Homo sapiens: one gene and its partners. The protein of the gene in region 7 purifies or fractionates together with the protein of the main gene of each other region. This does not show direct contact. Each region holds a gene or a part of one and is shown on either strand. Other genes may lie near its edges.

The links.
Region 1: the proteins of CDH8 (region 7) and PLD2 purify together in Homo sapiens (affinity purification with mass spectrometry; 2 studies listed by BioGRID and IntAct, with this or other methods). This does not show direct contact.
Region 2: the proteins of CDH8 (region 7) and HADHA purify together in Homo sapiens (affinity purification with mass spectrometry; 2 studies listed by BioGRID and IntAct, with this or other methods). This does not show direct contact.
Region 3: the proteins of CDH8 (region 7) and HADHB purify together in Homo sapiens (affinity purification with mass spectrometry; 2 studies listed by BioGRID and IntAct, with this or other methods). This does not show direct contact.
Region 4: the proteins of CDH8 (region 7) and ARVCF purify together in Homo sapiens (co-immunoprecipitation; 3 studies listed by BioGRID and IntAct, with this or other methods). This does not show direct contact.
Region 5: the proteins of CDH8 (region 7) and CTNNA1 purify together in Homo sapiens (co-immunoprecipitation; 3 studies listed by BioGRID and IntAct, with this or other methods). This does not show direct contact.
Region 6: the proteins of CDH8 (region 7) and CTNNA2 purify together in Homo sapiens (co-immunoprecipitation; 3 studies listed by BioGRID and IntAct, with this or other methods). This does not show direct contact.

What each region holds. Positions count from the first base shown.
Region 1 is NC_000017.11:4,817,152-4,820,540, reverse strand, and holds part of PLD2 (phospholipase D2), read right to left. Parts: coding exon 3,282-3,389; intron 2,540-3,281; coding exon 2,435-2,539; intron 2,245-2,434; coding exon 2,156-2,244; intron 2,048-2,155; coding exon 1,934-2,047; intron 1,768-1,933; coding exon 1,718-1,767; intron 1,458-1,717; coding exon 1,323-1,457; intron 1,113-1,322; coding exon 959-1,112; intron 1-958.
Region 2 is NC_000002.12:26,227,633-26,231,132, forward strand, and holds part of HADHA (trifunctional enzyme subunit alpha, mitochondrial precursor), read right to left. Parts: intron 2,663-3,500; coding exon 2,560-2,662; intron 1-2,559. UniProt on the Homo sapiens protein: Mitochondrial trifunctional enzyme catalyzes the last three of the four reactions of the mitochondrial beta-oxidation pathway.
Region 3 is NC_000002.12:26,251,439-26,254,938, reverse strand, and holds part of HADHB (trifunctional enzyme subunit beta, mitochondrial isoform 1 precursor), read right to left. Parts: intron 693-3,500; 5' UTR 685-692; coding exon 621-684; intron 510-620; coding exon 465-509; intron 1-464. UniProt on the Homo sapiens protein: Mitochondrial trifunctional enzyme catalyzes the last three of the four reactions of the mitochondrial beta-oxidation pathway.
Region 4 is NC_000022.11:19,978,824-19,982,323, reverse strand, and holds part of ARVCF (splicing regulator ARVCF), read left to right. Parts: intron 1-232; coding exon 233-391; intron 392-586; coding exon 587-1,113; intron 1,114-2,081; coding exon 2,082-2,581; intron 2,582-2,631; exon of another isoform or gene 2,632-2,932; intron 2,933-3,243; coding exon 3,244-3,427; intron 3,428-3,500. UniProt on the Homo sapiens protein: Contributes to the regulation of alternative splicing of pre-mRNAs.
Region 5 is NC_000005.10:138,931,425-138,935,534, forward strand, and holds the end of CTNNA1 (catenin alpha-1), read left to right. Parts: intron 1-1,153; coding exon 1,154-1,288; intron 1,289-1,463; coding exon of another isoform or gene 1,464-1,534; intron 1,535-2,377; coding exon 2,378-2,665; 3' UTR 2,666-3,610; downstream 3,611-4,110. UniProt on the Homo sapiens protein: Associates with the cytoplasmic domain of a variety of cadherins. The association of catenins to cadherins produces a complex which is linked to the actin filament network, and which seems to be of primary importance for cadherins cell-adhesion properties.
Region 6 is NC_000002.12:79,873,051-79,876,550, reverse strand, and holds part of CTNNA2 (catenin alpha-2), read right to left. Parts: intron 2,476-3,500; coding exon 2,209-2,475; intron 1-2,208. UniProt on the Homo sapiens protein: May function as a linker between cadherin adhesion receptors and the cytoskeleton to regulate cell-cell adhesion and differentiation in the nervous system. Required for proper regulation of cortical neuronal migration and neurite growth.
Region 7 is NC_000016.10:62,033,639-62,037,593, forward strand, and holds the start of CDH8 (cadherin-8 isoform 1 preproprotein), read right to left. Parts: upstream 2,801-3,955; 5' UTR 2,442-2,800; intron 1,549-2,441; exon of another isoform or gene 1,445-1,548; intron 1-1,444. UniProt on the Homo sapiens protein: Cadherins are calcium-dependent cell adhesion proteins. They preferentially interact with themselves in a homophilic manner in connecting cells; cadherins may thus contribute to the sorting of heterogeneous cell types.

The DNA of each region.
Region 1 (3,389 bases), on a different chromosome or scaffold from region 7:
TCATGCCTGTAATCCCAGCACTTTGGGAGGCCGAAGCCTGAGGTCAGGAGTTCAAGATCAGCCTGGCCAACACAGCGAAACCCTGTCTCTACTAAAAATACAAAAATTAGCTGGGCGTGGTGGTGGGCGCCTGTAATCCCAGCTACTCCGGAGGCTGAGGCAGAAGAATTGCTTGAACCCAGGAGGCGGAGGTTGCAGTGAGCCAGGATCGTGCCATTGCACTCCAGCCTGGGCGACAAGAGTGAAACCGTGTCTCAACAACAACAACAACAACAACAAAAAAGATTTCTTTTTCGTGGCCAGGTGCAGTGGCTCACGCCTGTAATCCCAGCACTTTGGAATGCTGAAGTGGGTGGATCACCTGAGGTCGGGAGTTCGAGACCAGCCTGACCAACACGGCGAAACCCCATCTCTACTAAAAATACAAAATTAGCTGGGCGTGGTGGCGCATGCCTGTAATCCCAGCTACTCGGGAGGCTGAGGCAGGAGAATCGCTTGAACCCAGGGCAGAGGTTGCAGTGAGCTGAGATCTCGCCATTGCACTCCAGCCTGGGCAACAAGAGCAAAACTCCGTCTCAAAAAAAAAAGATTTTTTTCTCTTTTTGTTTTTTGGTGTTCCTGCTTTACTGATACTCTAAACTGATTAGTCCTAGTAGCTGGGATCACAGGCGCCCGCCACCACACCCAGCTGATTTTTTGTATTTTTAGTAGAGACGGGTTTCACTATGTTAGCCAGGCTGGTCTCAAAATCCTGACCTCAGGCAATCCACCCGCCTTGGCCTCCCAAAGTGCTGGGATTAGAGGCGTGAGCTGCCGCGCCCAGCCTTGCCTATTGAGAATCTAGTACTGCCTCTACCTCTGGCTCCGGGAGTACCTATGCGGTGCTACCTCTTGTCCTGCTCAAAAGGCAGACGCCCCCATCTCCCTCCCACCCTGTGGCATCCCGCCCCAGCTCTACCCGAAGCAGTGCTTCCGCAGACTCAAGGCAAACCTGCCCGCCTGATACTCTGCCCCATTCATGAGGGATGGTTCCGTCTCTGTGTCCTCGATCAGCACGGCCAGCTCACTGTCCCGCTTCCCCAGCAAGCTCCGGTCATTGATGTTTGCAGAACCTGGGGTGGATGCGGGGCACACTGTGTGCTTGGGCCCAGGGCACTCTCCCCAGTACCCCATCCCCTCTACCAAAGCACTGGCCTGCAACATTCCTTCTTGGACCCTCCACCCCTACACGAGCCTCAGCTGCAGTCTCTGTCATCCTGCCTCTCATCTCTTCGCCTGTCCCCACACCCTCTCCCTGCCAGAGGACTAGATCCGGCACTGACCAATGATGACTGTCCGGTCATCTGCGATGAGCACCTTGCTGTGGATGTAGATGAGCTCCGAGACGGGGTGCCCGCCCAGCTCTCCGTGTGTACGAAGCCCGCAGATGGAAATATAGTCCCGCCATGCTGTCCCCACTGCGTGACAGGAGGGGAAGTGAGGTGAGAGGTGGCTCTGTGTGCACAGGGCCCTGTCCCACCTCCTCTCACTCCAGAAACTCTTCCTACATAGAGTCTGGTCTCTCTCCTTCTCCCTGCAGTGAAAGGCCAGCTATGGTCTGCGTAGCGTCAGAGGCTCACAGGAGTGACAGCCTCCTTCCCCCACCCCCAGGCCTGCAGCGCCCCAATCTCCCTCTCCCAGGGGCCCAGGGCTTGAGCCCCCAGCCCCCAGCACTCACTGGCTGCTTTAAGGCGATGCAGGATTGAATACTCCCCACGACACAGGGTCCTGAGAGAAAAGAAAGAGGGAGAGAAGTGGAGGCTGGCAGAGGGGAGGGGAGGTCAGGAGAGGTGGCCCTTCTTTAAGGCCCAGCAGGAAGGGATCAGGACAGAATCAGGAGGGGGACACGGGTGGGATGGGGCCACTGAGAGCTGGAGTCCGCCTGGGGGGTCACCTGTAAGTAAAGTGCAGAATGGCCTGGATGGAGTTGCCACCGCCCGTGGAGATGTCACCCTCGAAGCCAGGGAGTAAGGGCAAAAGCACGTAGACTCGGTAACACCACCCCTGTCTGGGGAGGGGGTGGAGTCAGAGGTGCGACTGGTCCCTCAAACCCCACCCCCTTCAACCGGGCTCAAACCACACCCACAGTCCCCACCTTCCTGACAGTCCACCTTACTTGTGGGCCTTCAGGATTCTGTCCACAATCTCATCGCCCACCTTGTTCAGAACCGTCCGCCCATCTGAGCAGCTAATGAAGAACTGATTCTGGGGCAAGAATCAGAGACAGACATCAGCAGCCTGGCCCCTGGCCCTGTCCTCGGCCTCCAGCCTTGGTCCCAGGCTCCAGGCGTCTGCTTCTGCTCCACCAGCCCTCAATGACTGACTCCACTCATTCCCCAGGTCTCTCTCCTGGGACACCCCTTCCATGCTCTCCCCCACCTCCTCCCAGTCAGACCTCAATGTAGAGGAAGTGCTGGCTCTCCCTGATGGTGTGCAGGTAGGCATTGAGGATGGAGTTCTCCAGAGTCCCTGCTGACCAGCGGTCCACTGATCGCAAGACCTAGGGAATGGTGAATGCGATGTGCTTCATTTCTTTTCTTTTTTAAGACAGAGTCTCGCTCTGTTGCCTAGGCTGGAGTGCAGTGGCATGATCTCCGCTCACTGCAAGCTCCTCCTCCTGGGTTCACGCCATTCTCCTGCCTCAGCCTCCTAAGTAGCTGGGACTACAGGTACGCACCACCACTCCCGGCTAATTTTTTGTATTTTTAGTAGAGACAGGGTTTCATGGTGTTAGCCAGGATGGTCTTGCTCTCCGGACCTCGTGATCCGCCTGCCTCGGCCTCCCAAAGTGCTGGGATTACAGGCGTAAGCCACTGCGCCTGGCCTTTTATTTTATTTTTGAGATGGAGTCTCACTCTGTTGCCCAGGCTGGAGTGCAGTGGCGTGATCTCAGCTCACTACAACATCCTCCTCCTGGGTTCAAGCGATTCTCCTGCCTTAGCCTCCCTAGTAGCTGGGACTACAGGTACGCACCACCACGCCCGGCTAATTTTTTGTATTTTTAGTAGAGATGGGGTTTCACCATGTTAGCCAGGATGGTCTCGATCTCCGGACCTTGTGATCCGCCTGCCTTGGCCTTCCAAAGTGCTGGGATTATAGGCGTGAGCCACCGTGCCTGGCCGTGATGTGCTTCTTAACCCCAGGAAAGGAGAGTGTGGGCAGCTCTCACACCAGGGAGAGTGGGTTGGGGTGTTAGGCTGAAGGAGACAAAGGGGAGGGCTGGCTGAAGTGGGGGGCCTCACCTGTACGGTGGTGCACTGCCCTCCTGGAAGTGTGAAGGGGAGCTGATTGGCCGTGCTGGTAGACTTGGGAAGCAGGTAGGGGTATGTGGGAGTCTTGTACTTGGCCTT
Region 2 (3,500 bases), on a different chromosome or scaffold from region 7:
AAAGAGTATAACCACTTTGGGAAAACAGTCTGACAGAAAAGCAAACACATACCTAGCAAATACTAGTGGCATATGCCTCGTAATCCCGGCTTCTTGGGAGGCTGAGGCAGGAAGACTGCTTGAGCCCAGGAGTCTGAGGCCAGCCTGGGTGACAGAGCAAGACTCAAAGTCTCATCTCTAAATTTTTTTTTTTTCTTCCCAGAGATAAGGTCTCCCTCTCTCACCCAGGCTGGAGTGCAGTGGCCTGATCATAGCTCCATGTGACTTCAAACTCCTGGGTTCAAGCAATCCTCCTGCCTCAGCCTCCCTAGTAGCCAGGACTACAGGCATGTGCCACCACACCCAACTAGTTAAAACTTTTTATTTTGTTGAGACAGAGTCTTGCTATGTTGCTCAGGCCAAACTTTTTTTTTCAAAAGCTAATATATATCTGTTATATGGACTAGCCAATCCACTCTTCAGTACTTACCCAACAGAAATGAAACATTTGTCCACATAAAGACTTTTTTTTTTTTTGAGACAGAGTCTCGCTCTGTCACCCAGGCTGGAGTGCAGTGGCACAATCTTGGCTCACGGCAACCTCCACCTCCTGGGTTCAAGTGATTCTCCTACCTTAGCCTCCCAAGTAGCTGGGACCACAGGTGCACACCACTACACCCAGCTAATTTTTGTATTTTTAGTAGAGATGGGGTTTCGCCATGTTGGTCAGGCTGGTGTTGAATTCCTGACCTCAGGTGATCAGCCTGCCTCAGCCTCCCAAAGTGCTGGGATTAGAGGCTTGAGCCACCACGCCCAGTCACGCCCACATAAAGACTTAAAGATGAATGTTCATAGCAGCTTTATTCAGAATAGCCCTAAATTAGAAACAACTCAAATGCTCATCATTTGGTGAACGGATAAACAAACTATGGTACATTTCTACAATGGAGTAACACTCAGCAATAAGGACAAACTGCTGATATATGCAACAGTATGGATGCATCTCAAAAGCATTATGCTAAGTGAACGAAGATTAAAACAAACTACATACCAGAAATGTTTAAAAATTTTTGTTTAAAAGATGGCATCTCACTCTGTTGCTCAGGCTGGAGTGCAGTGGTGTGATCATAGCTCACTACAGCCTTGAACTTCTGGGCTCAAACAATATTCCTGTCTCAGCCTCCTGACTAGCTGGGACTACAGGTATACACTATGATACCCAGCTAATTGAAAAAAAAAAATTCTTTTTTAAGAGATAGGATCTTGCTCTGTTGTCCAGGCTGGTCTTGAATTCCAGGCCTCAAGCAATTCTCCCACCTCAGCCTCCCAAAATGCTATGATTACAGGTGTGAGCCACCATGCACGGCTATTTTTGGATTGTGGCAGTGTTTACACAGCTATATACATTTTCAAAACTCAAATTATACATTAAAAGTTGGTCAATTTCACCAGACACAGTGGCTCACACCTGTAAATCTCGGCACTTTGGGTGGCTGAGGGAGGAGGATTACTTGAGCCCGGAGTTTGAGACTAGCCTGGAAAACAGAGTGAGATCTCGTTTCTACAAAAAATAAAAAATTAGCTGGTGTAGCAGCGTATGCCTGTGGTCTCAGCTACTCGGGGGGCACAAGTGGGAAGATCATTTGAGCCCAAAAAGTTGAGGTTGCAACAAGCTATATTCACACCACCATATTCCAGTCTGAGCAACAGAGTGAGACCCCAACATGTGTGCGCGCGCACACACACACACACACACACACACAAAATTAATACATTTACTATTATGTAAGTAATATCTCAATAATGCTGATTTTCAATAAATATAAGAGGGTAATGAACACACAAGTCAGAATAGTGGCTTCTTTGGATAAAGGGAGGCAAAGAAACTGAATGGGAGGAAGTAGCCCATCAGTAGATATCAATTATTGTTAATATTCTCAGGTTGGTTGTTTCATTTATTATATTACTAAAACAGACACAAGAAACTGAAGGAAGGTTATGCATGGATAATGATACAGGTAATTTAAGAACCAAAAATAATGACTTGACTGAATTCTGTACTCCTAATGTTCTAATTATAAAGCAAAATAAAAATCAGGGTGATGTTGAAAATGATTTAGTATTAGCTATTTTATAAAACTTCCTTCCTTAGAATAATGACTCATTTCTTAAGAGTTTGAGCTTCTCTCTGTGCTTCCTGTGATATTCAAGAGGTTAACTGTTTTTTCTTTTGAGATGGGAGTCTGGCTCTGTTGCCCAGGCTGGAGCACAATGGCATGATCTTGGCTCACTGCAACCTCAGCCCCGCCAGGTTCAAGCGATCCTCCTGCCTCAGCCTCCCAAGTAGCTGGAACTACAGGTTTGCACCACCACACCCGGCTAATCATTTTTAGTGGAGACAGGGTTTCGCCATGTTGGCAAGGCTGGTCTCAAACTCCTGACCTCAAGTGATCTTCCCGCCTCAGCCTCCCAAAGTGCTGGGATTACAGGTGTGAGCCACCGTGCCTGGCCTAAGAGGTTAACTCTTTAAGAAAATAAGTAACTTTATAAGGTCTGACTCTGAGATGTGCTAACACTTACCCAGGGGTTCCACCAGTTGGTCAACCAGTCCCATTTTCTTTGCCCTGTCTGCACGAATGCTTCTACCAGTCAGCATCATGTCCAAAGCAGCAGGCACACCCACCTAACAGGCAAGCAAGGATGAGAATATAGGGGGAAAAAAATCAGGGTGATAATTATATAGTTTACAAATCATCAAATGAACAAATATTAAAATGAGAAAAGTCAAGCCATATGTTTATGCTATTTGTCAACAGCATAGATAAGTTATATTTAATATACTGATATACACTTGGGTAACTTTGGGGATTAGATACCTCTAGCTGAAGCAAAAATGTCTTTATCTCTTAATTCAATATATAGGATTCTTATACTAATAAGGTAAAGAATTTCATGTTTCCTAAAATTGTACATTTCTGTTATTCTGAGGGGTTTTTTTCTATCATATATATAATATGTAAAATTCTGGCCAGGCACGGTGGCTCACACCTGTAATTCCAGCACTTTGGGAGGCCAAGGCAGGCGGGTCACCTGAGGTTAGGAGTTTGAGACCAGCCTGGCCCGACATGGTGAAACCCTGTCTTTACTAAAAATACAAAAAATTAGCTGGGCATGGTGGGGCACACCTGTCATTCCAGCTACTTGGGAGGCTGAGGCACAAGAATTGCTTGAATCCGGAGGCAGAGGTTGCAGTGAGCCGAGATCATGCCACTGTACTCCAGCCTGAACAACAAAAGTGACTCTGTCCCAAAAATAAAATAAAATAAAATTCTCATATTGAAACTAGAGAAGACTGTGAGAAACCTGATAGTTTTGACAAAGTCTTTAAAAAGAATTTTAAGCTTAACAAAAATAGAACTCAGCTAGGGCTGCTTATATGGCATACTAGAAGAAAGGCTTCTAGCAACATTCAAATACCAGCTATAGTTTAAGAAAAAAAAAAGAAGAAAGAAAGAAACTCA
Region 3 (3,500 bases), on a different chromosome or scaffold from region 7:
TATTAACTAGTTCCTAATCACTTCTATTTCAGGAATGGGCCCTCTTGCACATGGGAGAAGAAGATATTCATCAATAGAGAAGCATTTCACAAATTGCAAATTTAAAGTTAACTTTTGGTTCCATAGCAGGTCTCAAGAGCATTTGTATGCCATTCACCTCCAGGACGGACAGCAAGAGGATAAATAAACTGACCAACGAGGTTTATGGAACCTCCATGACTCCAGCAGGTTCAAATCCCAGAAAACAGCCTCCCATTAACATCCTCAAGCCTAATCCTAAATAATGTAGTATCATTATTGATTGGACCTATAATTTTTTAATTTGAAGGCAACAGAGATGTTCATGTGCTCATAAAAAGGGGAGAATTAGCAAATTAGTTTTGGTTTTTATTCAGAGTTCACAAACTATAGAATCTGGAATCTAACATTTAAATCAGAAATATTTATTTTACAAATTACTGTACCTGGGGCAGCTCGTAGCTGGGAGGAACAGCTCAGAGGTCTTATGGCTGGAAGACAAAATAAACTGTTTACAAAAAGCAATACCATTCAGTATCTGTGCGAGATGTTTATAAATCCAAATCCAATCTCTAAAAATAAAAAAATAATAATAAACTTACAAAATCTGAGGGCCCATTTTGATGCAGTGGGAAGATTTTTAAAGGGGTAAGTCAAGATAGTCATTCTGGAATCTAAAAAGAGAAGAACAAAAGTATATCCTGGATTAGCTGAACAATTTGTAGTTTACATTGTAGTCTATGAACTCTGATAACCTCATCCATGGCTACTAGAAAACATTAAAACTTAATCTTATCAACTATTCTTCATCTAATAATATTATTATGATAGGAACACCAACATGGTTTTCACATTGCAGCAACCACTATTCTAAGCATTAACCATCTAATCTTCACAATGACCTACAAAGGAGGCATGATTATTACATCCTTTGTAAGAGATAAGGAAATTGAGGCATAGTAGGATTGAGTGACTTGCCAAAAGACCTACAACTAGTGAGTGGCAGAGCTGGAATTTTTATTTATTTATTTATTTATTTATTTATTTATTTATTTATTTATTTTTTTGAGATGGAGTTTTGCTCTTGTTGCCCAGGCTGGAGTACAGTGGTGCAATCTCGGTTCACTGCAATCTTTGCCTCCCAGGTTCAGTCGATTCTCCTGCCTCAGCCTCCCGAGTAGCTGGGATTACAGGCACGTGCCACCACACCCGGCTAATTTTTTGTATTTTTAGTAGACATGGGGTTTTGCCATGTTGGCCAGGCTGGTGTCGAACTCCTGACCTCAGGTGATCCATCGCCTTGGCCTCCCAAAGTGCTGGGATTACAGGCGTGAGCTACCGCACCAGGCCCAGAGCTGGAATTTGAACCTAGGAAGTCTACCTCTAGAGTGTGTGCTCCTCTCCTTTAGGGTCAAAGAAGCAGAGAGACTGCTAGGCGTGATAATAAAACCATTAGTATTAGTTTCACGATTCTGAAGGCTGTACTATGATTATGTAGAAGGCTTTGTGGAATGTTTGTATCTGAAGGGAATATACACTAAATAGGGATGGTGAAGCATCATGTCAGCAACTTAATCTCAACTGCTACTAAAAAAAGTTTGTAGTACTGCACTTGCAACTTTTTCAAAGTTTGATACTGTATTGTTTCAAAACAATAAAAAAGTAAAACATATAATAACCCTATATGTTAAAAAATATGTAAAATATATTAACAACTTTCCCCCACCCCTCCAAAAAAGACTAAATTTCTAACAATGAGTTCCTACAGATTACTAAGGAAAACACTAGCAGACAAATAGGCACAGAATATGAACAGACCACAGAAAAGGAAATACAAATGGTTCTTAAGTATATGAAAAGATGTTCAATTTCACTCATAAGAAGAATTCAAATTAAAACCACAGATATAATTGTCTCTCAAAGTAGCAAAGATTCAAAGGTTTGATATATACTCTGTGTAGGTAAGAGTATGTGCAAATAGATATTCTCATATACTGCTGCCAAGAGAACTGGCACAGTCCATGGGGAGGGCAATTTGGTAATTATCCATGAAAACTATAACTGAAACTAATGTTTGAACCAGCAATTCCACTTCCATGAACTGACTTCATGGATATTACTCACACACAGGACATAATCCATATTGTTACTGTAATAGTCAAAAATTAGAATAACCAAAAAATAGGAAAATGGGTAAGTAAACCATGCTACAACACCCCTGTGAAATACTATGCAGCTGTAAAAGGTAAGGAAATGATTATGCACCAATTCGGAACCATTTTAAGCTGTATCATTAAGTGAAGAAAGCAAGGTGCAAAATAGCTGTACAGCATGCTATCATTCATGTTAAAAGAGGAAAAATATTATGTACATTTCCTTGTATCAGTATAAAATCCCCCTGGAAGTATAATAAAGATGTTAAAAATAATTGTTGGCTGGAAGAAAGGGAACTGGGTAACTAGGGGTCAGGGGTGGAAGACTTGTCATCACACACCTTTTATAATTTCTTAATTTTGAAGCATGTTTTAACAACAACAACAAAAAATCAAAACCAAAAAAATCCCACAAGATTTACCAACAAAGACTTTGGTAGCCAGCCTCCAAGTTGCCCCCCAATAATCTCTACCTCTTGGTATTCACATCCTTGTCTAGCTGCCTCCCTCTCCATATCACAGAATGTATAAACCAAAAAGTATGTTACAAGTAATGGTATGCCACTTCTGAGATAGGCTATAAGAGATACTGCAGCATCTGTCGTGGTCTCTCTCTCAGCTCACCCACTATGAGAGAAGCCAGGTGGCATGTCCTGAGCAGCCTTATGAAGAGGCTCCTGTGGTGAGGAACTGATGCCTCTTGCCAACAGCCATGTGAGTGAGCTTGGAAGCGGAGCCTCTAGCGCAGGCAAGCTTTCAGCTGACTCCAGCCCTGCCAACATTCTGACAGCCACCTTATGGGAAACTCAGAGCAACCCAGCTAAAGTGCCCTTGATTCCTGACCTTCAGAAACTATGAGATGGTAAACATGTATTGTTTTAAACTGCTACATTTGGCGGTAATTGGCTACACAGAAATAGATAATACAAAAGCTTTAAGGTTTAACTTCTCTTGGGTCTTTAGAGACTAAAAGAAGGAGGTCCTATAGCTTCCGAAAAGAAAAAAACAAAACATGTTCCAAACATGTGGATTGGAAAGAGATGGAGAAGCCCAAGCTTTAGGATCACCAGCCTAGGGATATTCAAAGGACTCTGGCCAGAGAAACACAAAGAGGCCCATGAGAGAGGCACCACTCAGAAGCTACTTACAATGCCACAAGGGTCTGGGCTACAAGTTCCCTTACGTAAGGTTCATCTTGAAATAAAATTCATGAAAATTGTCAAGAAAATGTTGAAAAACAAAAGGGGGAACCTTGTTGCAACAGATAACAAAACTTTCTAGGCCAGGCACAGAGGCTCACACCTGTAATCCCAGCACTTTGGGAGGCCG
Region 4 (3,500 bases), on a different chromosome or scaffold from region 7:
ATGGGGTGCCGGGGCAGGGTTAGCACCTCGATGTTCAGAGGGCAAGAACTTATTGCTGTCCTTGTCAGCTTGGGCCGAAACAGGCCTTGGGGTGGGTGGGTTCAGGACCAGGAGGAAGGCACCCTGGTGTGCTGGCCAGCATGAGCTGAGGCAGAGCTGCTGTGTGTGGAGACCTGCACTCCAGGGGTGACTGAGCAGCAGGCCTGCCCACCAATGTCCCTCCTTGCCCCAGGAGCAGAGCCCAGGCAGCCAGGCCTCACTGGCCACGATGCCGGAGGCACCTGATGTGCTGGAGGAGACCGTGACGGTGGAGGAGGACCCCGGCACACCCACTTCCCATGTGTCTATTGTCACATCCGAAGATGGCACAACCCGGCGCACCGAGACCAAGGTATGGCCAGGCCCAGGCAGTGGGTGGGTGAGCAGGGCCAGGCTGCTGCAGCTGTCCCACCTGCAGAGTGGACATGGAAGCTTGCCACGTGGGGCCTCTCATTGCTCGAGTGGGAAATTAAGGCCAGCCAGACCCCAGCAAAGCAGTTTCTAGGCCTCTCGTGCTACCCCACCTACCTGCCTATCCATCCACCAGGTCACCAAGACTGTCAAGACGGTGACCACTCGGACAGTACGCCAGGTGCCCGTGGGCCCAGATGGACTCCCCCTGCTGGATGGCGGCCCCCCACTAGGCCCTTTTGCAGATGGTGCCCTGGACCGGCATTTCCTGCTGCGTGGTGGTGGCCCAGTGGCCACACTCTCTCGAGCCTACCTCAGCAGTGGGGGTGGCTTTCCCGAAGGCCCCGAGCCCCGGGACAGCCCCAGCTATGGCAGCCTGTCCCGAGGGCTGGGCATGCGGCCCCCACGTGCTGGCCCCCTTGGCCCAGGCCCTGGTGATGGCTGCTTCACACTGCCTGGCCACCGGGAAGCCTTCCCGGTGGGTCCTGAGCCTGGGCCACCAGGTGGCCGCTCCCTGCCCGAGCGCTTCCAGGCAGAGCCGTATGGCTTGGAGGATGACACGCGCAGCCTGGCCGCTGATGACGAGGGTGGCCCTGAGCTGGAGCCTGACTATGGCACGGCCACAAGGAGGAGGCCTGAGTGTGGGCGGGGCCTTCATACCAGGTGAGCTGCACCCCGTCCCCTGTGGCTACCTCCTCTGGGAAGTCTGCCCTCCACCCCCCAACTACAGAGTGCCCCACTTGTCAAGTGGCGCAGTTGAGTTAGTCATGCATGTTAGTTTGAATTGGCCTTGGCTCTCGTCAGGGACAGAAGAAAGGTGGACCCTGGGGTGGTAGGAGTTCGGCTGGGCACTGTCCTGCAGGCCCAGGGCCCAGGAAAGCTGGGAAGAGTGCCGGCCACTGGCCTTGCTCCAGCCACACTCTGGGTAACCAGAACCCAGAGCCCTGGCCCTTGTCACAGCCCCTGGTTCTGTCCCCATTGCCCTCAGTTTCTGCATCTCTGGAGTGGGGATGTGACCACAGCCCGGGTCAGGATTTTGTTGTGTGACCCTGGCCAAGTCACCTGACCGTCACTCCTAGCCTCAGGGCAGGCGGTTTGATGACAGCAACCCACAGGGCTACTGAGAGCTAAGGAGATCTTGTGCCCCAAGGGGCTGGTGGCCTGAATACTCCTCAGGTGGTCCTACTGGGATGGCTTCATGCGGAGAGGGCCATTTACTCCCCCTACATCCTGGCACAGCCAGAGATGGGCCTCATGGAAGATGGGGTGGTTTTGTGGAAGGGAGGTGAGACGGTCTCTCCAGCAGCCATAGCAGATGTCTCACAGAAACTTGTTTTGCTCGGGATTGGGAAACTGCCCGGTGACAGCAGTGAGTGAGTTTGCTGTCCTGGGAGGGTTGCCTGGGTCCTGGTAGCCGCTGGCTGGGGTTTGGCATTTGGCTCTGAATTGGTTCTCACTGGGCTGGTGCATGACTCTCTGTGTCCCCACCATGCTCCGGGCCAAGATACAGGTGCTCTCAGCCCAGCGCTGCTGGGTGAGTTTGCAGTCCTGAAGAAGGTGTGATGGGGCAGCTCAGAGGCAGGGCTGGCGGCTGCTGTGACGATGTCCACGCGCCCCACTTGCCTGTGCAGGGCCTACGAGGACACAGCAGATGATGGCGGCGAGCTGGCGGACGAGCGGCCTGCGTTCCCAATGGTGACGGCGCCCCTGGCCCAGCCTGAACGGGGCAGCATGGGCAGCCTGGACCGGCTGGTGCGGCGCTCGCCCTCAGTGGATAGCGCCCGCAAGGAGCCGCGCTGGCGGGACCCTGAGCTGCCTGAGGTGCTGGCCATGCTGCGGCACCCCGTGGACCCCGTGAAGGCCAATGCGGCCGCCTACCTGCAGCATCTGTGCTTTGAGAACGAGGGTGTCAAGCGGCGTGTACGGCAGTTGCGGGGGCTGCCGCTGCTTGTGGCACTGCTGGACCACCCGCGGGCTGAGGTGCGGCGCCGGGCCTGTGGGGCACTGCGCAACCTCTCCTATGGCCGCGACACTGACAACAAGGCCGCCATCCGGGACTGCGGTGGTGTGCCTGCCCTGGTGCGCCTGCTGAGGGCTGCCCGGGACAACGAGGTCCGTGAGCTTGTCACTGGTGAGTGGGACCTGGCCATGCTCACATCCCCTGGGAAGAGAAGAGTGTGAGGCTCAACCCGGGAGGAACGAGGCCACTCGGCCTGCGACCGCCTGGGAAAGCACCCGGTAGGCAGGAGTGCAGCTGCTGAGACGCTTGCCCCAGGAGCCAGGCATCAGGCCCAGACACTGTGACAGGTTCCCCAGTCTCTACCATAGCAGGGAGGCTGACGCTGCGCCCCTCGGGCATGTCCCCTCACCTCCTGCCTTCACACCTCCTGCCCCCACAGAAACTCTCCTGGGACCCACCTCCTTGGTTCCCACCCCAACCGTGCAGTGGTGGGGCTTGTGCCTTGTGAGAGCTGAGGGACAGGTAGGGTCACCGTGTCTCTGTGAGGCCCTGTGGCCTCAGGAGTGTTAGTGCCACCTGCCACATGGCAGGGAATGGGTGGGACGGGACAGCACTGCCACACCCTCCTCTGCACCTCCTCCCCTTTGGGGCTCCTTCCTAGCTGGAAACCAGTACTGGGTGTCCCCCGGAACCACTCACGGCTTTTGTTACTTCCTACTGTTCTGCATGAGCTGGGACATGAGGAGAGTGGGACAGGTCCTGAGCGTGGCCACCTGGGGAGGTAGGCAGGCGGTGCATATGGTCAGCACAGATTGGCCAATCGCACCCCACAGGCACCCTGTGGAACCTGTCATCCTATGAGCCCCTGAAGATGGTCATCATTGACCATGGCCTGCAGACGCTGACCCACGAGGTGATCGTGCCCCACTCAGGATGGGAGCGTGAGCCCAACGAGGACTCCAAGCCACGGGACGCCGAGTGGACAACTGTCTTCAAGAACACGTCGGGCTGCCTGAGGTGTGGACCAGACCTGGTGCTAAAGCCCACATGCACACCAGGCCCCGTCCTCGTGGTCCCAGATAGTGTGGAA
Region 5 (4,110 bases), on a different chromosome or scaffold from region 7:
TACAGTTTTTCTCTGTAGTTAACAAGCCTCCCCACCATTTTCCCTGAAATAGCCAAACTCTCAGCCTCATCTAGGCCACAGGATGTGTGAGACACAAGCCTCCTTACACAAGCCAAAGATTGTAAAGGCATCCTTGACTCCCACACAATCGGTAATAGGGCCTATTGCTTCCATTGGCCAAATGTATCTTGACACAAACCAGTCTTGTCCTTTCTGCAGATCTCCATAGCCACTTGGACTACTGTGGCCGCTCCCGATTTCCTGTTCTTTCCTCTCTCCACTTCCTTCTGCATCCAGCTGTCAATACTGTCATCTGAAAATGCAGATCACATGGCTCTGCCCTGCTTCCATGACTACTTAGAATACAGCTCATCTCCAGTATGGTCTGCGGGGTCTCAGTTCATACCACTCTCTGTGGTGTACTTTGCTCCAGCCTCACTGGAAGAAAATGTTTGCTTGCTATAAACACTTGAGAGGTGCTCTGTGTTTCTCCCTTTGGGTAAAGCTTTCTAGGCTGGTCCTAATCTGGGAGCCTCTAAAACTCTGAGATGTGGAGCGAGACAGGAACTGGGCAGGGGCCACCCTTTTCTCTTTGACCATCCCCAACTGCTTTTTTTCTTGCTTTACTTTACTCACTTGTCTTCCACCTCAGCCTGCAGTGAGTGGCTTTTGTCATCAGGCATTAATAACGCAAAGTGCCTCAGAGCAGAAGAGTTAACTATTTGTTTACTTAGCTAAAAACATCTGGACTTTTCTCCATAGCCAGGCTCCTGCTTGCTGAGCCGGCTTGTTCTCACCTCGAGGGGCATGGGCCTCCACCCTGCCGTTTGGGGTGAGGGGATCCTTGGCCAGGGTGGTTTCCCCGCCGTCATAGGAGGGAAGTCAGTGGGAGGCTCAGAAGGCCTTGGCTATACAACCAGTGCCATGCGGCGCAGTCAGGGTCCCATGGACGACTTCCATCAGCTCACCCGCCTCCATCCCCAAGCAGAGTGTAGGCAAGGGCTGTGACTGCCTCAGGTAATTGGGTGATTTTGCTCCAGCAAGAGGAGAGGAAGCATGTGAGTGCCACACTGAACCTTTCAGAAACAGCCGTGGGGTCGGGGGTGCTTGGGCCAGGCCAGGATACTTGGTGTTAAGCCTGCTCTCTCTTCAGTGCCCCGACTCGGCTTGCAAGCAGGACCTGCTGGCCTACCTGCAACGCATCGCCCTCTACTGCCACCAGCTGAACATCTGCAGCAAGGTCAAGGCCGAGGTGCAGAATCTCGGCGGGGAGCTTGTTGTCTCTGGGGTAAGCATTAGCTGAACAAAAAGAGGGCCAGTGGGAACGTGCTGACCCTTGTCAGAAATGAAAGTCACCTCCTATCCGCATAAACACCTGCCCTGGGAAAGTGTGCTGTGCAGAAACTCCAAGTCCTGTCCCAGTCTCTGGAGACCAAGGTCTGTCCATCATCTGTTCCCTGTAGAACTGTGACACCTGCGGGGCACTGCAAGGGCTGAAAGGCTGGCCTCCTCCCCTTTGCTGGCCACTCACTGGGTAGGAATTTTTAAAAATCTTCCTTGGGACCGGGCGTGGTGGCAGGTACCTGTAAGTCCCAGCTACTTGGGAGGCTGAGACACAATAATTACTTGAGCCTGGGAGATGGAGGTTGCAGTGAGCCGAGATGGCACCACTGCACTCCCGTCTGGGCAACAGAACAAGACTGTCTCAAAACAAAACGAAACAACAAAACAAAACAAAACTTCCTTTTCTTCCCCCAGAGAGGAATTAAGAGTAGACATAGATAGGGTGTTTTCTCAAAAGCCCTTCACTCCTCAGAGTGCTTGGGTAGCGTCTCTTTCTTTTTACCACATCACAGTTCTGAGGCCTTTCTCACCTAGGGCAGGGGAAAGAAGAGGTTTGCTGAGTGGATTGGGGTCCACCGAGCCTCCATGGCTTCTCTTAATCCCACTGAATTTCCTTTAAAAGAAACACTTCTTATATTGAACATATTGAGACCATTTGCTCATCTGCTTTGCCATAAACATCCCTGTCTCGATTCCTGCTTCTCCTCCCCCACGTGCTTACAGCTCTGGGATCACTTACAGTGACTTCCAGTTGGTTTGAGTGAATAAACACTTGCTGAGGGGTGGGGGTGAGCAAGGCGAGGTTGCCTCATGTCTTCTCCAAAGGGTCTGAGGGCAGGCGCTTCCAGGCTATTTAGATAAGAGCAGCCGTTGAGGGTGTTCTTCAGGAACAGGCTGCTGCCCAATCCTCTGCGACCTGCCCAGGCCCTGGTCTTGCAGAGGAGTAGGGGGCTCCCCTTCAAGCACAGCCCACCTGTGTCCACGAGGCTGGAGGTCAGGCCGGTGCTTCTTACCACCCCTGTCTGCCTCGTAGGTGGACAGCGCCATGTCCCTGATCCAGGCAGCCAAGAACTTGATGAATGCTGTGGTGCAGACAGTGAAGGCATCCTACGTCGCCTCTACCAAATACCAAAAGTCACAGGGTATGGCTTCCCTCAACCTTCCTGCTGTGTCATGGAAGATGAAGGCACCAGAGAAAAAGCCATTGGTGAAGAGAGAGAAACAGGATGAGACACAGACCAAGATTAAACGGGCATCTCAGAAGAAGCACGTGAACCCGGTGCAGGCCCTCAGCGAGTTCAAAGCTATGGACAGCATCTAAGTCTGCCCAGGCCGGCCGCCCCCACCCCTCGGGGCTCCTGAATATCAGTCACTGTTCGTCACTCAAATGAATTTGCTAAATACAACACTGATACTAGATTCCACAGGGAAATGGGCAGACTGAACCAGTCCAGGTGGTGAATTTTCCAAGAACATAGTTTAAGTTGATTAAAAATGCTTTTAGAATGCAGGAGCCTACTTCTAGCTGTATTTTTTGTATGCTTAAATAAAAATAAAAATTCATAACCAAAGAGAATCCCACATTAGCTTGTTAGTAATGCTCTGACCAAGCCGAGATGCCCATTCTCTTAGTGATGGCGGCGTTAGGGTTTGAGAGAAGGGAATTTGGCTCAACTTCAGTTGAGAGGGTGCAGTCCAGACAGCTTGACTGCTTTTAAATGACCAAAGATGACCTGTGGTAAGCAACCTGGGCATCTTAGGAAGCAGTCCCTGGAGAAGGCATGTTCCCAGAAAGGTCTCTGGAGGGACAAACTCACTCAGTAAAACATAATGTATCATGAAGAAAACTGATTCTCTATGACATGAAATGAAAATTTTAATGCATTGTTATAATTACTAATGTACGCTGCTGCAGGACATTAATAAAGTTGCTTTTTTAGGCTACAGTGTCTCGATGCCATAATCAGAACACACTTTTTTTCCTCTTTCTCCCAGCTTCAAATGCAAATTCATCATTGGGCTCACTTCTAATAACTGCAGTGTTTCCCGCCTTGGGCTTGCAGCAGAAAAACCTGACAACATAGTGTTTGCTAAGGCAGTAATTTAGACTTTACCTTATTTGTGATTACTGTAGTGATTGATTGATTGATTACTATTAACTACAAGGTATAATTTACTATCACCTTATTTAAATTTTATGAATTAATTTGAATGTTTTTTACACTAACTAACTTTTCCCAATAAAGTCCACTATGAAACCACGACATCCAAGAGCCCAAAGTCGTCTTCTCTGCCTTCAAGTCATAGATTTGCCCGCAGTATCTGTGGTGCTCTGGGCCCTCCCGGTGTCCGTCTCTTCCAGGATGGGGATGCCCGGGAGGGAAACTGTCTGTGGCTCTAGGCTGCACGGCTCGTGCCAACCCATCAGGGAGGGCCATGCCCGTTGTCCTATTGAGTGCCCCACCCTGCACCCCCACCTTGGGAATTCACATGTCCATTCCTTGAGGTTCATGTCAACCTCGGAGGCATCCCTGTCTTCATTATAGCTGACCCCTCTCCTGCGTCCTTCTGTCAGCATATCCCTTCTGCATCCTTCCCGTCACACATACATACCAAGCTATGATGATTGATTGATAGTGGCCTTCGAGATGAAAACCATCCTTAACCCCATGATCCTTCCCAGCTGGCATCCCCACCCTAAGCAAGGTTCCCTAAAGAGAAGCTTGTTGACATTTTCTCCCCTTCCTCACTTACAGTCAGCTGTCA
Region 6 (3,500 bases), on a different chromosome or scaffold from region 7:
TCTTAACCAGCTCCTCACTTAGGTTTTGTTGTTTATTTTTGATTATAAAATAAATTATAACTAGAATAATGTAATTGTGTCAAAATCTGACTAAATAATCCATTCTTAACTAATTTTAATAAACACCAATTTATAAAATAATTTTGTATTTGAGATTGCCTATGATTTTTATTCTTTCATGGATGAGTCCATTTGTGTTTCAATACACACCTTTAAAATTAATGTAGCATTACAATGTTTTAATATCTGTGTGTATGACCTGCTCATTTACTTTTCCCTGAAATATGGGCTCATTCATTCTTTATTCTAGAATATAAAAAAAGACAAACAAACAAAAATCCTTTATCACTCCTCTGTCAAGTTCCAAAAGAATCCTCTTAGAATTTGTATTGAGATTGCTTCAACATTATGAAAACTGATAGGATCAATAGTTCTCCTACTCAAGATCATGATATCATTTACTGACAAGTAAAACTTGTCCCTCAATAAAGTAATATAATTTGACTTTTTAGGTCCTTCACATCTATATTAGACTTATTTCTAGCAGATATAAGAAATAATAAAATAAAATTAACTTTTTAAAAATTATTTGTTTTGTGAATATCTCCTCGTTATTCTACTTTATTTTACATGATGAAAATCTAGAGATTTTTGTATATTTATGTTATATAAAGTAAACATTATTTTGAACTCTCATTATTTTCTATGAATTTTCAGTTGCTCGCTGCAATTTTGTGAATAAAATTACCTATTATTAAGTCTTCATTTCTGTAGCAAGTGCTTTAAATATATTATCATATTTAATCCTCACAAAAAAAACCTTAGGAAATAATATATGGTGTGAGATACATATAACTAACTGTAAAAATATGGGAAAGAGGAGAGACCACTATGAAAATGGTAAGAACTATTTGAGTATGAACTGTTAAAATTATTCCTCAGTTATATCATCCATCTCCAAGCCTTGAACAATCATTGCTTTGCTCCTGGACCTTTTTTTCCAGCTGCTAACTAGTTATTTCTTGCCAAAAATTCACATCAACATATTCAAAAGCAAGCTCATCATCTTTCTTCATGACCATTAAGTAACCTATTTTTCTTCTATGAATTCCTGTAACATTGTGTTTTATCAATTAAATGGTGTTTAGTGCATTCTACTTCCCTCATCTCCCCTGCAGGGTTATTTAACCCTGGAAAGTAGATGCTAATTATTTATAAATCTTTGTAGGCTTTCATTGATCATAAGATAAATAAATTCCAACTTCTCACAGGTCCTCTGACCCGGGGGGAATGGGGGCTGTCATCCCGGGGTGCTGATGACATGCGTGCAACCTTCTCACTCACACTGATGCTTCACATATGGCTCAGCACAGTGAACAATCCTCCTTGCTTCTTCCCTCACCAGGACACACCTACAGAAACAGCCAGTGTAGAATGTAGGACTTTCAGAGAACTAACACAGGCTCTCCCCAGAGGGTCTGTTCTAATGAAGACCAGGGTCCTGTGTGGGATCATAGGGCAATGTACTTTATCACTGATTTAAAACAAAGAAATTGATGGCAGCTTTTCACGCAGGCACAACATAGAGGCAACGTACATCTAGGCTGCCCATAACATGTGCCCCTTTAATAATAAAGATGATCGTCAAATTATGAACTGTCCCTAAAATAGCCTGTAAGTTATCTCATCTACCTGGAAGGGATTGGGCACTCTTAAATACAGTTGTTTCTTCTTTTTTCCCCGAGACGGAGTTTTGCTGTTGTTGCCCAGGCTGGAGTGCAATGGCACGATCTCGGCTCACCGCAATCTCCGCCTCCCGAGTTTAAGCGATTCTCCTGCCGCAGCCTCCCGAGTAGCTGGGATTACAGGCATGCGCCACCACGCCCAGCTAATGTTTTACATTTTTAGTAGAGACGGGGTTTCTCCATGTTCGAACTCATGACCTCAGGTGATCCACCCACCTCGGCCTCCCAAAGTTCTGGGATTACAGGGGTGAGCCACCGCAGCCACAGTTGTTTCTTTAAAGACAAGTGATAATGGCTTAGCCAATATATTACAGAAATGCATTATGTAGTTTATCTTACTATTAAAACCTCCAAAAGAGAAAAATCAATGTAAATTATTGTAGTGGCCCTTCATCCTCAATACATTTTTTTTTTTTGTCAACACCAGTGCCCACCCCTCTGTGTACCTCACCAGGATGCTTACGTCAAACTCATTAAGAGCCGCAGCCAGCTCGCCGATGCCCGTGTGGCCCTTGGCTTCGTCAGTGGGCGAGGTAGCTTGAGCAGCATTGGAGATGCCGGCGATGGCCTCCTGGACTTGTTTGAACACATAATCTCGGTTGGCTCTCGTAGCGGCGACATCTGGGTGGCGGAGAAATGCTTGAGAGGCCGTGTACAGCATTGTGGCATTCTTCTTCAGAGCCCCTCGGGCGGCTGCCATCTCATCCCGACAGTGAGGATCCTTCAGCTCCTGTGTGTGTAACACATGAAAGCTGTCACACACATGAAATTTGCATAGAAATATTTGCAACACAGTTTGGAGTCACAGACTCTTAGTAACACACTGAACTTCAGAAACCCTTGTGCTGTTTCTAGCTGCCAGGCCTTTGCATATACTCTTTTGTTTGTTTGTCTGTTTTATAGAGACAGCTAGGTCTCTATAGTGACCTAGGTTGGAGTACAGTGGTGTTATCAAAGCTCACTGCAGCCTCCATCTCCTGGGCCCAAGTGATCCTCCCTCTTCAACCTCTTAAGTGGCTAGAACTACAGGTGCATGCTTCCACACCAGGCTAGTTAAAAAAAAAAAAGTTGTGGAAGTGGGGTCTGGCTATGTTGCCCAGGTGGGCCTTGAACTCCTGGCCTCAAGGGATTCTCCCACCTCTGCTTCCCAAAGTGCTGGAATGACAGCCATGAGCAACCACACCTGGCCTACTGTCCCTTCTATGTGAAATGCCTGAGCTTTCCTCCTCTGCCCTACCCTTTCACCTGACAGGGCTCCACTGACTTGGCACATCCTCCACCCAACTTTCTAAGCTGTGTCCCCTTTCATCTGTTCCCACAAGACACTCTTCCTCTCCTATCACTAACACTTCCTACTTTACTGTATTTTTTGAGCATATATTTCTCTTCTATAACGTACCTCTAATGACAGCAGGGAGCCCTAGTTTTCTTATTCAGTGGCTCTTTAGTCATTAGCAAAGTGGCTGGCCTATAAGAGGCATTCAATAAAATATTGCTGAGATAATATAAAAACCAAGCCACCAAGAAGGTAAATTGATTGCATGGGCCATACAGTTAGTTATGAACAGACAGAAAACCTGAAAACGTCAGTCTTCTGAGGCCCTACTTGCCTCCATATTCAATTACTGTTACAAATGGGAAACCAAACTTCTGATTTTTGCTCAACACATCAGTGTCCCTTAATTATCATTTTCAGAATAGGGTTCCTGCTTTGTTGTTGTTGACAGCCTCTAATGGCAGCTCATCATTAAGTTT
Region 7 (3,955 bases):
TACAGCACAAGTTTCAGAGCACATTAGCCAGTGTCTCTAAAACATTTGGCCTATTTGCGATGGTCAGGGGATAACTTGACATTCACTTGGGGAGTGTGGGGATCAGAATGAGGAAGGTGAACTGCCACGGAAGGGCTCTGAATGAAGCAGTCCCCGGAGTTGCTGGAAAGACTCCCCTCTCTGTTTTCAGAGGGATTTTCCTCAACTCCTCGCCTTCTTCAGAGTCCAGAAAAAAAAAAATCAAAGGCGATTTAAAATACTGTGACTGCTCCAGCATGAAATGACTATGTGACAGCGAGCTTCAAATCTGCTAAAGCAGAATTACAGAATATTATTATCAGAATTATTATTTAATAAGGGGGATAGCTCTAGAATTTATTCCAGCCACAGAGCTCGGGGAAGTGGAAAAACATGTCTGGACATGATGATTATGGAGAACTCCCTTTAAGGGAAAAAGAATGTAACCCTAAGAGAACATCCTTCAAAGGTACCACTTCTCTCTGTAGAAGAATCCCACTCCCAGCCCCCACCTCATATATATATCTCTCTCTCAAACACACACACACACACACACACACACGCACACGAAGAAATCCCTGCAACACTGGACACAGCTGATGCAAAGCAATATCTAGGCAGGGATTTTACTGGTATTTAGCATGAACGACAGGGCTCACTTTGCATGCAGTGAGGTGCAGCAGCGAGGCTGAATGGATGGAAAATCCCACTTTCGAATCTTACATAAACATCTTTCCCACATATAGTTTTCCAGTTGAAAAGCTCCTATAATAAAGCCTGAGGTGACAGCCCAAGGAGGGTTTTTAACCATTGAGATGGCTGTCAGGAGTGTTGTAAAGAGAACAGGCGCTTCAAAAGCCAGCCCCCATCCCTCGGATCTGCTTTGCGATGGTACCGGATGCGAGAGGACAGTACTCTCGCTTACCTTCCCTAGCGTCCCCTCGTTCCCATTGTCAGCCCCCAGATATCATGACGCCAGGTGAAAGAAAGCAGCTGATCTGATTAGCAGCTCGGGCGCGCTAAGGGATTGTCGAATCATGCCTCCTAAGGAGGAAACTCTTGTGGAATCTTCAGGAAAGGGTGGTAAAGTTGAAAGGACCTTTCCTCCCTCCCGCTGTCTTGGTGATAAGCTCTATCGTTTAATTGGTGCTGAAGTGAGCAGCTGCCAGCCCGATTTTCCATTACGGACTAATATTGTGCGTTTGCAACAATAAACAATTAATGTGGTTTGATTTCTTACATTTAGCAACCCAAGCAAACAGCTGCCATCTCCGCTGGTGGAGGCAAACGGCTAGTCCTTGACATGCCGCCGGCTCCGTGCCTGCGGGGGAAGGGTCAACCGCAAGGAAACTTTGAGGATTCTGCCAGACTGGGTGGGGGAAGGCTCTGGTGTTTGGGAGGAATAAGCGGAGGAAATTGTGGATACCTGTTGGCATCAGCGTTGGCGGCAGCACGTTTTTTTACCGTTTCCCAGCCTTGGCTGGATCCTGGGAGAACCGGAGTAGGTCCCTTATGAACCTCTTACGTACTGGCAGAACCTAGGCAAGAGCCTTTTTCCCTCCGATCCTGCGAGGGGCGCGACCAGCCCCTCAAAGGTTCCCGGATGAGAAGCGGCCAGACCACAGAAAGCGCAGGTCTGGGCTCAGCTGTCCCTAGGAGAGCGGCTACGGAGTCCCCGGCTTAAGGGGGCCTCCGTGCACGCAATCTCGAGTTGCGGGGAGACACTGCCTGGGGGTCCTGCAGGGGTGCTGGGCAGCGTCTTGGCGAGGGCAGAGCCGCAGGGCGACTCCGGAGCCCGGCAAGTTTGTAGCGGGCACCGCACCTCCCAGAGCTGGAGCTGCCACTTGTGGGAAAGCCTCGCGCTGGGGCTTTCGCAGCTGAGCCTTGGCCCGCAGCCCTGCCGCGGGGGTCGCCCTCCCTCGCCTCGGAGATGAGGCGGTGCAGAAAACCAGCCATAGACCACTCGGGCCCCCTCGCCTCCTTTTTTCCCTGGCTTGCACCCTCCGCACAGCGGGCTGCAGGTGCTTCCCATTCACCGCACGGACCCCGCAGTGAAGGCGCGCGGCTGCAGCCGCGCCTGCCTGCGTTGGGAAGCGGCGAAATAGCCAAGTCGCCGCAGGGAAGGAAACCGGCAGGAAAACTGGAGGGGCACAGCCTGGAGCTTGCTACTCTCTAGGATCTGTTGTCAAAGCAGTTTGCAAAAACAGTCAGGCAAAACCTTGAGGCGTACGTACGTTATCACCCACGGATATCGCGAAAGACACAGCTTAGCCCAGAGCCTATGCTAAGAACCCTCATCCACCATCTGAGGGGCAGGAGGCGCGCAAGGTGTCCGAAGGGGCATGGGAATTCCTATAAGAAACGGTCCCTTCTGGATAGTCGGAACATAGAGGAAAACGGGGGTGGGTTAGGGGAACACTTACTCTTGTGGGGCCCTGCGCTGGCGAATGTCAAGCCTCCAGGTTCACAAATGGCTGGAGGTGCTCGGGGTTAGCTCCCGAGGGCGGCAAGCGCCGACCGGTCCTCGCTCGCTAGGCAGGCGCCTCCGGATTCCGTTCATGCCTCTCGGAGCTACAGGGCTTGGTGCGGAGACGCAGGGCGGGCGCGCTGGGCTCTGGGTGTCCGCAACCCAAAGTGCAGCTGGTGTCTTGACGCTACCGTCTATGCACAAGCCGGCGGCGGCGGCGGAGCTTGGAGGAGGCAGGGAGATTCCAAATAAATCCACTAATTCTGGGCTGAGCGCTCCGGCGTGCGAGCCCGCCTGCCTGCCAAATGTAACTGTGAAGTGATGTGGAAAAGTGAGCCGGGTGCCTCCCCTGACGGATCTCATTGGGCAGAGCGCAGAGGCAGGTCTACCACTTGGAAATTCATGTAAGCAGTCCCCCCTCCCCGCCCCCTCCCCGCCTTCCCCCTTCGCTCTCCCGCGCTGGCTCGATCGCTCTCTTTCCCCCTACCCAAGTGGGCGCACAACTTTTCGCTCCTCGCTCCCGAGCAAGCCCCGCGCGTCTCTGCCGCCAGAGCCACGAGGTGAAGATGCGCCCTTCCGCGCGGTGCGCGCAGCCCGCTGAGGACCGAGCTCCTGGATAAGTGGGCTGGCAGATAATAACAGCATGCGGATGAGGTACCTGCGAGCTTTCTCTCTAGAGGTCTCACCTGAGCTCTGGGGCTGGCGTTATGTTGAAAAGCGTCTCAGTGACCCGCAGCTATTTTCCGTAGGAGGAAGAGGACGCGACAGGGCAAAGGGTTGAGCGTGGGCAGCTTACCTCCTCTTTATTCCAAGGGCCTCTTGCGTACAGAATAGGGTGATTGTGAGACCCCTGCCTGCAACTCAGACGCTATGTAGAGGCTGTGTGTCGCGGTTCTGTGATGGAGCGCATTCCTGATGTCCCCGTGCTCCTTTGGGAAAATGGGATGAGGGACAGCAGAGTGGCAGCCAGGAGGGGCGCGCAGTAGTTGGTTGTGGGGAGGAGGGCAGGCAAAGCAGAACTTGCTTGGGAAATAGGGGAGGAATTTCTAGGTCTTCTCAATGTGCCCTGATCTTGTCATATCCTCTCAGATACCATCCTTGCGGTTCTCCTGCCTCCACCAAGACCTGCCCTGTCTGTGGTCACTTCAAGTCTTCTGATGGGCTGCGCTCAGATCTTGAGAAATGGCCACCCTGGGGTAAAAGGGACCATGAATCAGGAGGTCCAGATTTCTTTTCTTTTTCAACACTGGGGCTAACATGTAGACGATGCCACAGTCATCATCTTCTAATAAAATTAGATAAATATAAGACAAATAAATTCTTACCTTAAAAAAAAAAACCCTCCCCTCCACAGGAGATCCCGATTTAGTCCCTTCCCTGTGTGCACTAGACGTGAGCCTGAGGGTGGATTTTACCATCTGGGGACAGAGCAAGAACAGAAGGGGGAAAAAGGTGCAGGGGACAAGACGC